Linked DNA regions of Homo sapiens. The protein of the gene in region 1 interacts with the protein of each later gene in a pairwise test. Each region holds a gene or a part of one and is shown in the gene's direction. Other genes may lie near its edges. The genes, in order: ZNF212, PPARGC1B and ZZZ3.

Region 1 (3,380 bases):
GCTGACTTGGTGACCTCATCTGGCATCTGCTTGTTCTGGACTCCTTTATGATTGTCGTTAGTTCAGCTGTTACATATGCCTCAACTCCTACCACCCTGTGGGGTCTTTAAGACTAACGGCCACATCAATCATTATTCTTCATGCCCTACAGAATAGAGTACCGTACGAGGCGGTAGTCAAAACCTGCTGGAGATTGAGCGTAGGTATGTCAGAGCTTCAGGAGGGAAGGCAGTGCAGGAAAAGCACTTGTCAGTAGGTAATTTGGGAGGTTATGGAGGAAGAACAGAGCTGGACATGAATTCTTAAGCTGTAGGTTTAGTTTGTCTTTAATCATTCAAATTTGTTATTTTAACACTCTTAATTGAGTATAGTTGTTACAGTGTATTCTGTCATTTTTCACAGGGATTAAATATAAATTTGTAGACAAGCTTGGAGAACTATCATTTACAGTATTGTTTTATAAGAGTAATACATTTATATTTCCAATCAACATTGGAAAAACTGTACATGAATATAGTTTTATAGAAGTCTTGGAACCTAGCCAGTGTCATCCTCCTCCACGTTATCCTAATTCACTTATTCCTGGGGTGCTTCTGAAATTCACAGATGTTTGTTTGGTCCTGAAGAAACCAAAGGTACTAGAATGTGATCTTTTTTGTTGGTCTTCTTCCACTTTGCAGCAGGTGGGGTCATGATCAAACAGGAGCTACAGTATACACAGGAAGGCCCTGCGGATCTTCCTGGAGAGTTCTCATGCATTGCTGAAGAGCAGGCTTTCCTGAGCCCAGAGCAGACCGAACTCTGGGGTGGTCAGGGCAGTTCTGTCCTCTTGGAAACAGGTCCTGGGGACTCTACTCTAGAGGAGCCTGTTGGTAGTAGAGTTCCTAGCAGCAGCAGAACTGTGGGCTGCCCGAAGCAGAAATCTCATAGGCAGGTACAGCTGGACCAGGAATGTGGGCAGGGCCTGAAGCTGAAAAAGGACACTTCCCGCCCCTACGAATGTTCTGAGTGTGAGATCACCTTCCGCTATAAGCAGCAGCTGGCCACACATCTGCGCAGCCACTCTGGGTGGGGGTCTTGTACACCTGAGGAGCCAGAGGAGAGCCTTAGGCCCAGGCCACGGCTGAAACCACAGACCAAAAAGGCCAAGCTGCATCAGTGTGATGTGTGCCTGAGGAGCTTCAGCTGCAAGGTGAGCCTGGTGACCCATCAGCGTTGCCACCTGCAGGAGGGGCCCAGTGCCGGCCAGCATGTCCAAGAGAGGTTCTCACCCAACAGCCTGGTTGCCCTGCCTGGCCACATCCCTTGGAGGAAAAGCCGGAGTTCCCTCATCTGTGGTTACTGTGGCAAGAGCTTCAGTCACCCATCTGACTTGGTGCGGCACCAGCGCATCCACACGGGTGAGCGGCCCTACAGCTGCACTGAGTGTGAGAAGAGCTTTGTCCAGAAGCAGCACCTCCTGCAGCACCAGAAGATCCACCAGCGGGAGCGGGGTGGGCTGGCCCTGGAGCCCGGAAGGCCCAATGGCCTGCTTTAAGGGTGCAGCCCCTCGCCCGTCTGGGGGATGGAGGGGGGTGGCATTGGTTCCCCCGAAGAGACACTGCAGTCAGGGACTGAGTTCTTCCTGAGGGCAGTTGTTTGTGATTGCCTTCCCTTGTCCCAGTACCAAGCCAAGCCCAAAGGCTGTCCTGAAAACCCTGTGGAAGAAGAGTCCAGGCCAGGTCTTCATCCTGCTGCCAAGTTTGCTGTTTCTTGGCACCTTCAGGTCTCTGGTTTTCTCATTCATGCCAATGCTTGTGGGCTGGGGTTGGCGTTCTGACCCCACAGGGACTGGTGGCTGGTTCCAGGGCTCGTCCCGGCATTTCATGTCTTCCCACGGGGTTGAGTCGGGCCATAGGGGTGAGCAGCTGCCTGGAAGAGTTCTGGGAAGTATAACCCTCCATTTTTTCTTGTTTTATAATCTCTTTGTTTAATAATAAGTAGAAGAAATAATTTAAATGAACTGCTTAGCCCTGCTCTGAAGAACCTTTTTTGGAATTAGATTTTAGTTGATTTTTTAAAGAATACAGCCCAACACTTGTTTTTTACATTTTAAGAGTTGTAGAAGTTGTTCCTAACTTGGGGACTGGACCTACCCTCTAGGAGGGAGTTGTTAATGGGGCTCTTTTAGCCCACTGATGCTTACTTAGGCCGGAGAGCAGGGGACACGGTGCTAGGTTCCCTCGTGCAGTGCCTGGTGCTCTCAAATTGTCTCAAAAGGACCAAGAGGAAAAGAGTCGGAGGGGTAGACCCTGCAGCCCTGTTGAGAAGAAAGATTCCAGTGAAGTTGCTGATGGTATGGCTGTGGTCTGGGACTTGCGGTGTCTCGGCATACCCCTCTCCTCTTCCCACCTCCTCCTGGCTATGTTCTGCAGCCTCCCAGAGTAGAAAACTACTTTGTTACTTAAGGTTGTTCACCTTGTACCAGTGGTTATTTGAGTTTGTTCCTATTACACCAATCCTTACTTGAGGTGGTTCGGATTACAGTTTCCAAATGCATTCTGGGATTGCCTATTCCAGAGAGGGTACAGAAAAAGCACACAGATGGCTTGTCTCAGGAGTGTTGAATGTGTGCCCCGCTGCTGTCTGGGGGGATGGGAGTGGGCTCTGGGGTCATATGTGAACATCCCCTTGGATGATTTGCGGTTGCTTAGAATAAAACTTGCTACTAGCAAAAGAAAAAAAAAAAGTTCATACTGGATGTTTTTCTCCGTTTGTCAAGAACACTCTCCTGGGGCCAAGGTGGAGGAGAGGCACCTGACCTGGAGTGATGACAGGGAAGGACTGATGGCACAGCCTAACCTGCACTTTTACTTAAACCTAGGACAGAAGACAAGATGTGGCATGGGTGAAAATTTTCAGGGGACTGTACTTATGATGGTGGAGAGCTGGAGACAGTCTGGGTGATGGCTATTGGGAGGTAGAAAGAGTAGGTGAAATGTGGGTACCCCAGGGAGTGCCAGGTAGCTGTTACGAGCATTGGCTTAGATATATGCGTAGCCATCTGGATCCATCTTAAACACAATGCCGAGGGGAAAAGGTAAGAAATTGAGATCTATAATGTAACACCATTTATATAAATTAAAAATGCATGTACACAAAACATTTTGTAAGAACACTTGGGACCAAAGGAGACCCGTTAAAAGACATTACAGTTTTCCACGGGGAGAGCGAGCAAATAAGTAGAAGGAAACTTGGCTTGCTGTAAGGCAGGGGTCCCCAACCTTTTTGGCACCAGGACTGGTTTCGTGGAAGACAGGTTTTCCACAGACAGTGGTGGGGGACGGGATGGTTTTGGAATGAAACTGTTCCACCTCAGATCATCAGGCGTTAGATTCTCA
Region 2 (3,652 bases), on another chromosome or scaffold:
AGGGAGAACATCAGATTTTATCAGATTTTCAAAGGAGTCTGGAACTCAGAAGTTACTGGAAGCAGTCGCTCTCAATCCGGGCTGAGAGCACCCATAGCTGAGCTGTCCTGGAGTGTGAAGTCTAGCTTTGCTCAGCCTGTCTTGGGCCCCTCCCTTGGTGCTGTGGCTCCTGGAGGCTGGCAGGACTCAGCTAGAAAATCAGAGCCTGTTGGAGCCGGGAGGGTTCTTAGGTTATGGAGAGTTTGAGCTGGAAAGGCCCTTGGTGACCCTCAAGCCCAGCTCTGGAAAAACTGTGGCCCAGAGTGGGGAGGGTATCTCCAGTAGTCACACAGCAAGTCAGTGTGCCAGCAAAGACTAGAACTCAGGTATTCACTCCTAGTCTAGGACCCTTTCCCTTCCTTCCCACTGCCTTCAAGTTCCCCAAAGCAGCGTGAAGCACCCACCATGCCAGGCACAGAATATGTTCAGTCCCACATTATGGCTCCTGCCGAGAGGGGGTCCTGCTTCATTTCAGACTGGAATCGAAGCACCTAGGTTTGAATCCCAGCCCTGCCATTTAGTACTTGTATGTCCCTTAGGCATACATCCTGAACCTCTCTAAGCCTCGGCTTCCTGATCTATAAAGAGGGGTTAATAATAGTGCCTATGTCAAAGGCTATTAGGAGGATTACAGCAGATAATACACATAAAGCACTTAGAACAGTGCCTGGCACATAGAGTTGCTCAGTAAATGTGAACTAATACTTCTGGTACAACCATTAGTGGTAACAAGCATTCTAGTGCCATTTCTTCACGGGGCCTTTGGAGAAGAACCAAAGCTTAAAGAGGCAAAGCGCGACCCCTGCTGGTCAAAGGTTGTTTCCCTCCCATGCCTTAGATTACCTTCATTCCCTACATGCTTATTGAGTGCCTCTGTTTCAGCCATTGTGCAAGGCACACAGGAAACAGACTTGCTGTCTAGACTCCCTGCATACCGACAGAGATCTGGAAGGGCCCTGAGGGACCGGGCACAGTGGCTTATACCTGTAATCCCAACACTTTGGGAGGCTGAGTGGGAGGATCCCTTGAAGCCAGGAGTTTGAGACCAGCCTGGGCAACATAGGAAGATCCATCTCTATGATTTTTTTTTTTTTTTAAATTAGCCCGGTATGGTGGCACGTGCCTGTAGTCCCAGCTACTCTGGAGGCTGGGGTAGGAGGATTTTCTAAAGCCAGGAGTGTGAGGCCTCAGTGAGCTAGGATCATGATACTGCATTCAAGCCTGGGTGACAGAGCAAGACCCCATCTCTTTAAAAGACAAAAAGCAAACAAACAAAAAGGCCCTGAGAAGTCATCTGGACCTCAGGTTGGGCCATGGATCCCAGAGAGTCCAGCGATGGACTTGTAAGGACCTGTGGACCTCTGTGTGTCTGTGTGATTTTCTGAGGTCAGCAACTTCTGTCATATTCTTAGAGTCAAAAAAAGAGGTTTTAATCCAGCCATGTAGTCTCTCTGCCCCTGCTCATTACACCAATGGAGGAATCAAGGCTCTCACAGTGCACCGGGCCTGAGCCAGGCTAGAATGAGGTCTCTTTCCCCCAGTCCTAGGATCATTTCCCATCGAAAAAGTCACAAACATGTGGGTGCTGGTTTGGGGTTTAGGTGGGGTAGCCAGGATCCTGTGGCTCCTCAAGAGTGTGGAGTGGCCTTTTCTCTGGCTCCTGGCCTTTGGCATTCCTTGTTGGAGTGACTTGGGGTGGCATGTTCCCCAGGGAAACTCTCCGTGCTGTACTAAAATCTCATGATCTTTCTCAGTTTGTTATCAAGCTTGGCTAGGATCTCCGGCGGAAAATCTAGATGTATTCAACTTCCTGCTCTCTCAGCTCAGGTACACTCTGTACCTGCCCTCAGGGTGCAGAAGCAGAAGAGCTTTTACAGTTTTTATAGAAAAAAAAAAAAAAGCCAAACAAGCTTAAGTGTAGTCTTCCACTTGTGTAAAAACAACAGGGTAGGGCCAGGCACAGTGGCTTACGCCTATAATCTCAGCACTTTGGGAGGCCGAGGCGGGCAGATCGCTTAAGGTCAGGAGTTTGAGACCAGCCTGGCCAACATGGTAAAACCCCATCTCTACGAAAATACAAAAATTAGCTGGGTGTGGTGGCAGACGCCTGTAATCCCAGCTACTTGGGAGGCTGAGGCAGGAGAATCGCTTGAACCCGTGAGGTGGAGGTTGCAGTGAGCCGAGATCCTGCCACTGCACTCCAGCCTAGGTGACAGAGACTGCATCTCAAAAAAAAAAAAAAAAAAAAAAAAGAAAAAAAAAAAAAAACAGGGTGGGTTGGAGGTAATGACTACATACATATACTTGCATAATGAAAGCCCACCTCATGATAGGTTCACCGAAAAGTAGTTAGTGGAGTTGCCTCTAGGAGGCAGAAGGGGACTTTGAGCAAGAGAGAGACTTGCTTTTAATTGTCTGCCCTTTAGTATTTGTGATGTGTCTTCTTTTTTTTTTTTAATCATTTACAAGTATTACCTTGCTTAATTTAAGAAATTAATTTTTAGAGGTAATATGAATAAACAGAAAGAACAAAGGGGAAATCAGCTAGAATCCCATACCAGAGAATCATTTTGGTACCTAACCTTCCAGATTGTGTGTATGTGTGTGTGTGTGTGCACTCAGAATGTCCCAATAAAACTGTATCATAATATTTTAACAGTAGAATAGACAGACGTTACCCAAGACCTGCTTGAGTTTTTCTAAGTCATAGCTATTCCCTGGGGTTATTAACTCTGAAAAGGATTTGTATGTTATTAGCATACTTACGTGTGTTCGGGATTGTTAGACAATCTACCATCTGCACCTAGTATCTTGGGATCATCATCCCAGGTCATGGAATGCCCACCCTGTGTTCTCCCTGTGGTCCTGTGATGCCCAAGGTCAGTCCTGAGGGGCTGGCCATGCAGTCCATGTCCTCTGGCTGTGGCTCAGCCCCGGCTCCTGTCCTCTCTGCTTTTCCCTCAGCTGCAGAAGCTCCTCCTGGCCACATCCTACCCAACATCAAGCTCTGACACCCAGAAGGAAGGGACCGCCTGGCGCCAGGCAGGCCTCAGATCTAAAAGTCAACGGCCTTGTGTTAAGGTATTTCTTCACATGCCCCCAAATCTACCCCAGGTGTCTGTTGGGGCTGCAGCCTTCAGCTCTGGTGGAGGATAGCGAGTTCAGTCAACCTCCAATATCTCTTCCCACTCCTCCCACAGCCCTTGTAGCTGGTGTCCTGGGCACTGCTTCTGGAGATCCAGCCTAGTTTAGGGTTTTCTGGAAGGAGCCCTGGACTTTCTCACACTTTAGTGTTCCAGACACTGGTAGATGTTAATGCAGCTTAGAGCAAGGATGAGGAAAGTGTGGCCAGGCTTCAGAGGACTGTATTCCAACAGTGTGACAGACCAAAATGCAAGATTGCGCTGGTTGTGGAGGCCACAGTAAATAGTTTGGATTTTTTTTCCCCCCTCAGGGAGCCCATTGGAGGGTTTAAAGCTCTGCCATAGACATCCAGGGTCAAAGAACATCCCTTTTCCTCCTTGAGCCCCATCTTCCAAGCCTAACAAGAAGAGGCGTAACAGGTGTTTTTCAAAGGGTCCTGTCCTCAAAGGCTACACACAACCCCTCCTCT
Region 3 (3,652 bases), on another chromosome or scaffold:
CAATGTTGAGACTTGGTTGAGATAATACAGACTTTTTATTTTTTATTTTCTAACAGAAAGGGTCTCACTATTGTCCAGGCAGTTCTCAAACTCCTGGGCTCAAGTGATCCTCTTGCCTCAGCCTCCTGAGTATCTGTGACTGTAGGTGCCCCCACTTCCCTGCCCCTGCACCTGGCTAATCTAGACATTTTTGGTCCCTTTTTATTAACTGAATTTTGCACTCAGTTTATTAGATAATTATAGAAAGTGTGTACCTTTATATATGCCTATCCAAAATAGAAAAGATATGAAGAAAAAGGTTAGAACAGAAAAAAATGATCAGAGGGAAGATTAGCAAAATTTTGTTTAACTCTGATCTTAATAATTTTAACCAGTTTATTACCTCAAGTGCACATCACATGTTAATTTCAGGTAAGATTTTTTATAGTCTTCCATTTGGTGCTTCCTTGGTCTTATTTATAAATTTTTTTATTATTAGGATCCAGTAAGAAATTAAAGGGTATTTTATAAATAGTTCTAATTTAGTTTGAAACTTGATGACTATTATCTTATTAGAATTCTGTCTGGGTTCACTAGCCTAAGGCAGTGCTTCTCAAACCCTAATACATACATGAATCACCTAGGAGCCTAATTCGTTGGTAGGTCTGGGGCGGAGCCTCGTATTCTGCATTTCTAACAAGCTTCCAGGAGATGCCCGTGATTGAGCTGCAAGAGCCTGAGGTACCACAAGGATCCTTGTTATAAAACAAGTTCTCTTTCAATACAGCCCAATAGCACAGAATTTGACAATCCTAGCACTAGGGCTTTGTTCTAGTTATTGAGTGAAATAAAAGCATTTTTAGGGTACAGAAGAAATGGAAAGAACCTTAATCTTTTATATTAATCAGTGTTTTCATATTTTATTTAACTTTTGTATTAATCAGTGTTTTCATATTTTAATCAGTGGAATGGTGAAAAATTAAGATAGGCCTTACTATACGTGATTTTTTTTTTTTTTTTTTTTTTTTCAAGACAGGGCCTTGCTCCCATCACCCAGGCTGAAGGGCAGTCACATCACTACACCCTTGACTTCCCAGGCTCAAGTGATCCTCCCACTCAGCCTCCCTAGTACCTGGGACTACAGGCAGGCTTCACTACACCTGGATAAATTTTTTGTATTTTTAGTAGAGACAGGGTTTCGCCATGTTGCCCAGTTTGGTCTCGAATTCCTGGGCTCAAGTGATCCACCTACCTCGGTTTCCCAAAGTCCTGGGATTACAGGCCTGAGCCACCATGACCAGCTTATAGGTGATATTTTATAGTAAAGAATATATGTATAAAAAAAAGGTTTTTAGTACTACTAATAATAGGTTCATTTCATCCAAAATAGTCTCTCTTTGAGAAGTTTGTACTGCAAGGCAAATTTTGCTCCCATTCAGATTGGTGTGGAAAGAAAAGGTTAAGGAAGTCTTATTATTGGAATAATTTAAGAGGTTTTTATGCCCTTAATTGGGATTGCATTTTAAAAAGTAAAGACTAACAGATTCTTTTGTGTGTTTATAAAGTATTTCTATTGTCAGTATTATTTTTGAACCATAAATTATGAGTATAGTTGAATTTACATTAAAGATAATATGTATTAGATTTTGTAGGCATTTTAGTTATTAAATTTAACTTAGCCTTATGCTTTTTTTGTGCATTTACATACATATTTAATATTTAAAAATAAGTAATCTTAACCCTTTAGAGTGCCAGATTTGGATACATGAAACAAGTAAGTTGCTTTTCATGTATTTCAGTTTGTGTTCTTTTCTTTTTATTTTTTTTTGAGACAGAGTCTCGCTCTGTTGCCCAGGCTAGAGTGCAGTGGCGCGATCTCGGCTCACTGCAACCTTTGCCTCCTGGGTTCAAGCGATTCTCCTGCCTCAGCCTCCCGAGTAGCTGGGATTACAGGCATGTGCCACCATGCCCTACTAGTTTTTGTATTTTTAGTAGAGACGGGGTTTCACCATGTTGGCCAGGCTGGTCACGAACTCCTGACCTCAAGTAATCCGTCTGCCTTGGCCTCCCAAAGTACCGGGATTACAGGCATGAGCCACTGCCCCTGGCCAGTTTGTGTTCTTTTAAAACATCATTTGAAGTTTAACTTAAATGTTTTACAATTAAAAGTGGAAAATTATGGGACACTCAGTGTTTGTTACCCATGAAAGAAACAGATTGTAATCTTCATGATAATATATTAGCAAACGATAATTAAATGTCAGCTGTTCTTTTAATGAATCCCCCAAACAATGAAAGTTTACTACTGTAAGAAATGTGTTTCTAAGTTCTGATTTGTGTCTTGTACTTATTGTTCACTTGGTTGCTATGAAATTCTGTAGAACATATAACCATGCTTTAATTCCAGGGCTAGTTTTGTGATTCTTATAAGATTTAAAAAAATTGTTAATTAAAAATTTAAAAGTATGCCATACTTTGAGACAACACTAAACTCAGGCAACTTAAATATTTTACAGGGTACTTTCTCACTTAATTCACTTGTCAGCAGGCAGGAACAGGGAGATTATTTCCTGTAGTGTTTCTTTTTTATATGTGGTAGCATGTTGCTGTGTCTTCTATAATTCTTCCAAACTTTCCACTGTTAGATAGTTCTAGTTGAAGCAAGGAGAAATTGTGTTTGATTTTTAGGGGTAGGAGTCAGAATGGCATTTGGAGGTTTACATGAGAAGGGAGACTGTTGATGACCAAAGGCAGGAGGAAGGGACTGTGAAACTTTGCACTATTGCCACCACTGGCCTCTTTCTCTAACTAATCATCCTGCATCTCATTCAAAGTTAGGAAATAAAATGACAGGGTACCTTGTGAAAACTAAACAGAAGAGGAGTCGGGGAATAGAGACTTCAAATATTAACAGCTCCTTTATTCTGCTTGATGGGAGAGCCTCTGGAAAATATCACCAAATCACTAGTTTACCCAAATGGATCAATCAAGGCATTTTTCTATATCCCTTACATTTCTGTCATATAAACCTCAAGCATCCACACCAGAATACCTGCTCATCTCCCAAACCACACATTAAAACTGGCACTGGCATATGCTATACACAGGAGTTCAAAGAAGGAAAGGGTGGGATTACAGGAGTAGTCTTGATTTCTTAAATGTAAGTATTTGCTTCAGAGGCTTCTTCCCCATTTTCTTTTCTGGTCTTTGGAACACTCCCTTTCACTTGCTAATTTATGGCTTTATTTCTAGAGACTAGGAAGGCTTGGGTTTGCTTTGTTTTGTTCTTAGCCAATGCAAGCTAGCATTGTGATTTTTGTCTATTTAGTTATGAAAAATTATACTGCAATAAAAAATTTTTGGATGCCAGATTATTATTAAGGGATTTGATCTGAAACTCATTTTAGCAAAAGTAAATTAAAAAGAGGAGAGCCTGCCTTTCTGTATACCGGGAACATTTTGAAAGAACACGAGAAATGATTGGAATAGTTTTTTGAAAGATAGCTGCTATATAAGTTCAAGATTATTATTTTATTTATTTTATTTATTTATTTATTTATTTTTTTGAGACAGTCTCACTCTGTCGCCCAAGCTGGAGTGCAGTGGCATGATCTCGGCTCACTGCAAACTCTGCCTCCCGGGTTCAAGTAATTTTCCTGCCTCAGCCTCCTGA

What was found.
Region 2: the proteins of ZNF212 (region 1) and PPARGC1B interact in a two-hybrid assay, tested with the Homo sapiens proteins (one large-scale study listed by BioGRID and IntAct).
Region 3: the proteins of ZNF212 (region 1) and ZZZ3 interact in a two-hybrid assay, tested with the Homo sapiens proteins (one large-scale study listed by BioGRID and IntAct).

Annotation. Positions count from the first base shown.
Region 1 is NC_000007.14:149,252,879-149,256,258, forward strand, and holds the end of ZNF212 (zinc finger protein 212), read left to right. Parts: intron 1-680; coding exon 681-1,537; 3' UTR 1,538-2,728; downstream 2,729-3,380.
Region 2 is NC_000005.10:149,827,764-149,831,415, forward strand, and holds part of PPARGC1B (peroxisome proliferator-activated receptor gamma coactivator 1-beta), read left to right. Parts: intron 1-3,003; coding exon 3,004-3,120; intron 3,121-3,652. UniProt on the Homo sapiens protein: Plays a role of stimulator of transcription factors and nuclear receptors activities. Activates transcriptional activity of estrogen receptor alpha, nuclear respiratory factor 1 (NRF1) and glucocorticoid receptor in the presence of glucocorticoids.
Region 3 is NC_000001.11:77,634,061-77,637,712, reverse strand, and holds part of ZZZ3 (ZZ-type zinc finger-containing protein 3), read left to right. Parts: intron 1-3,652.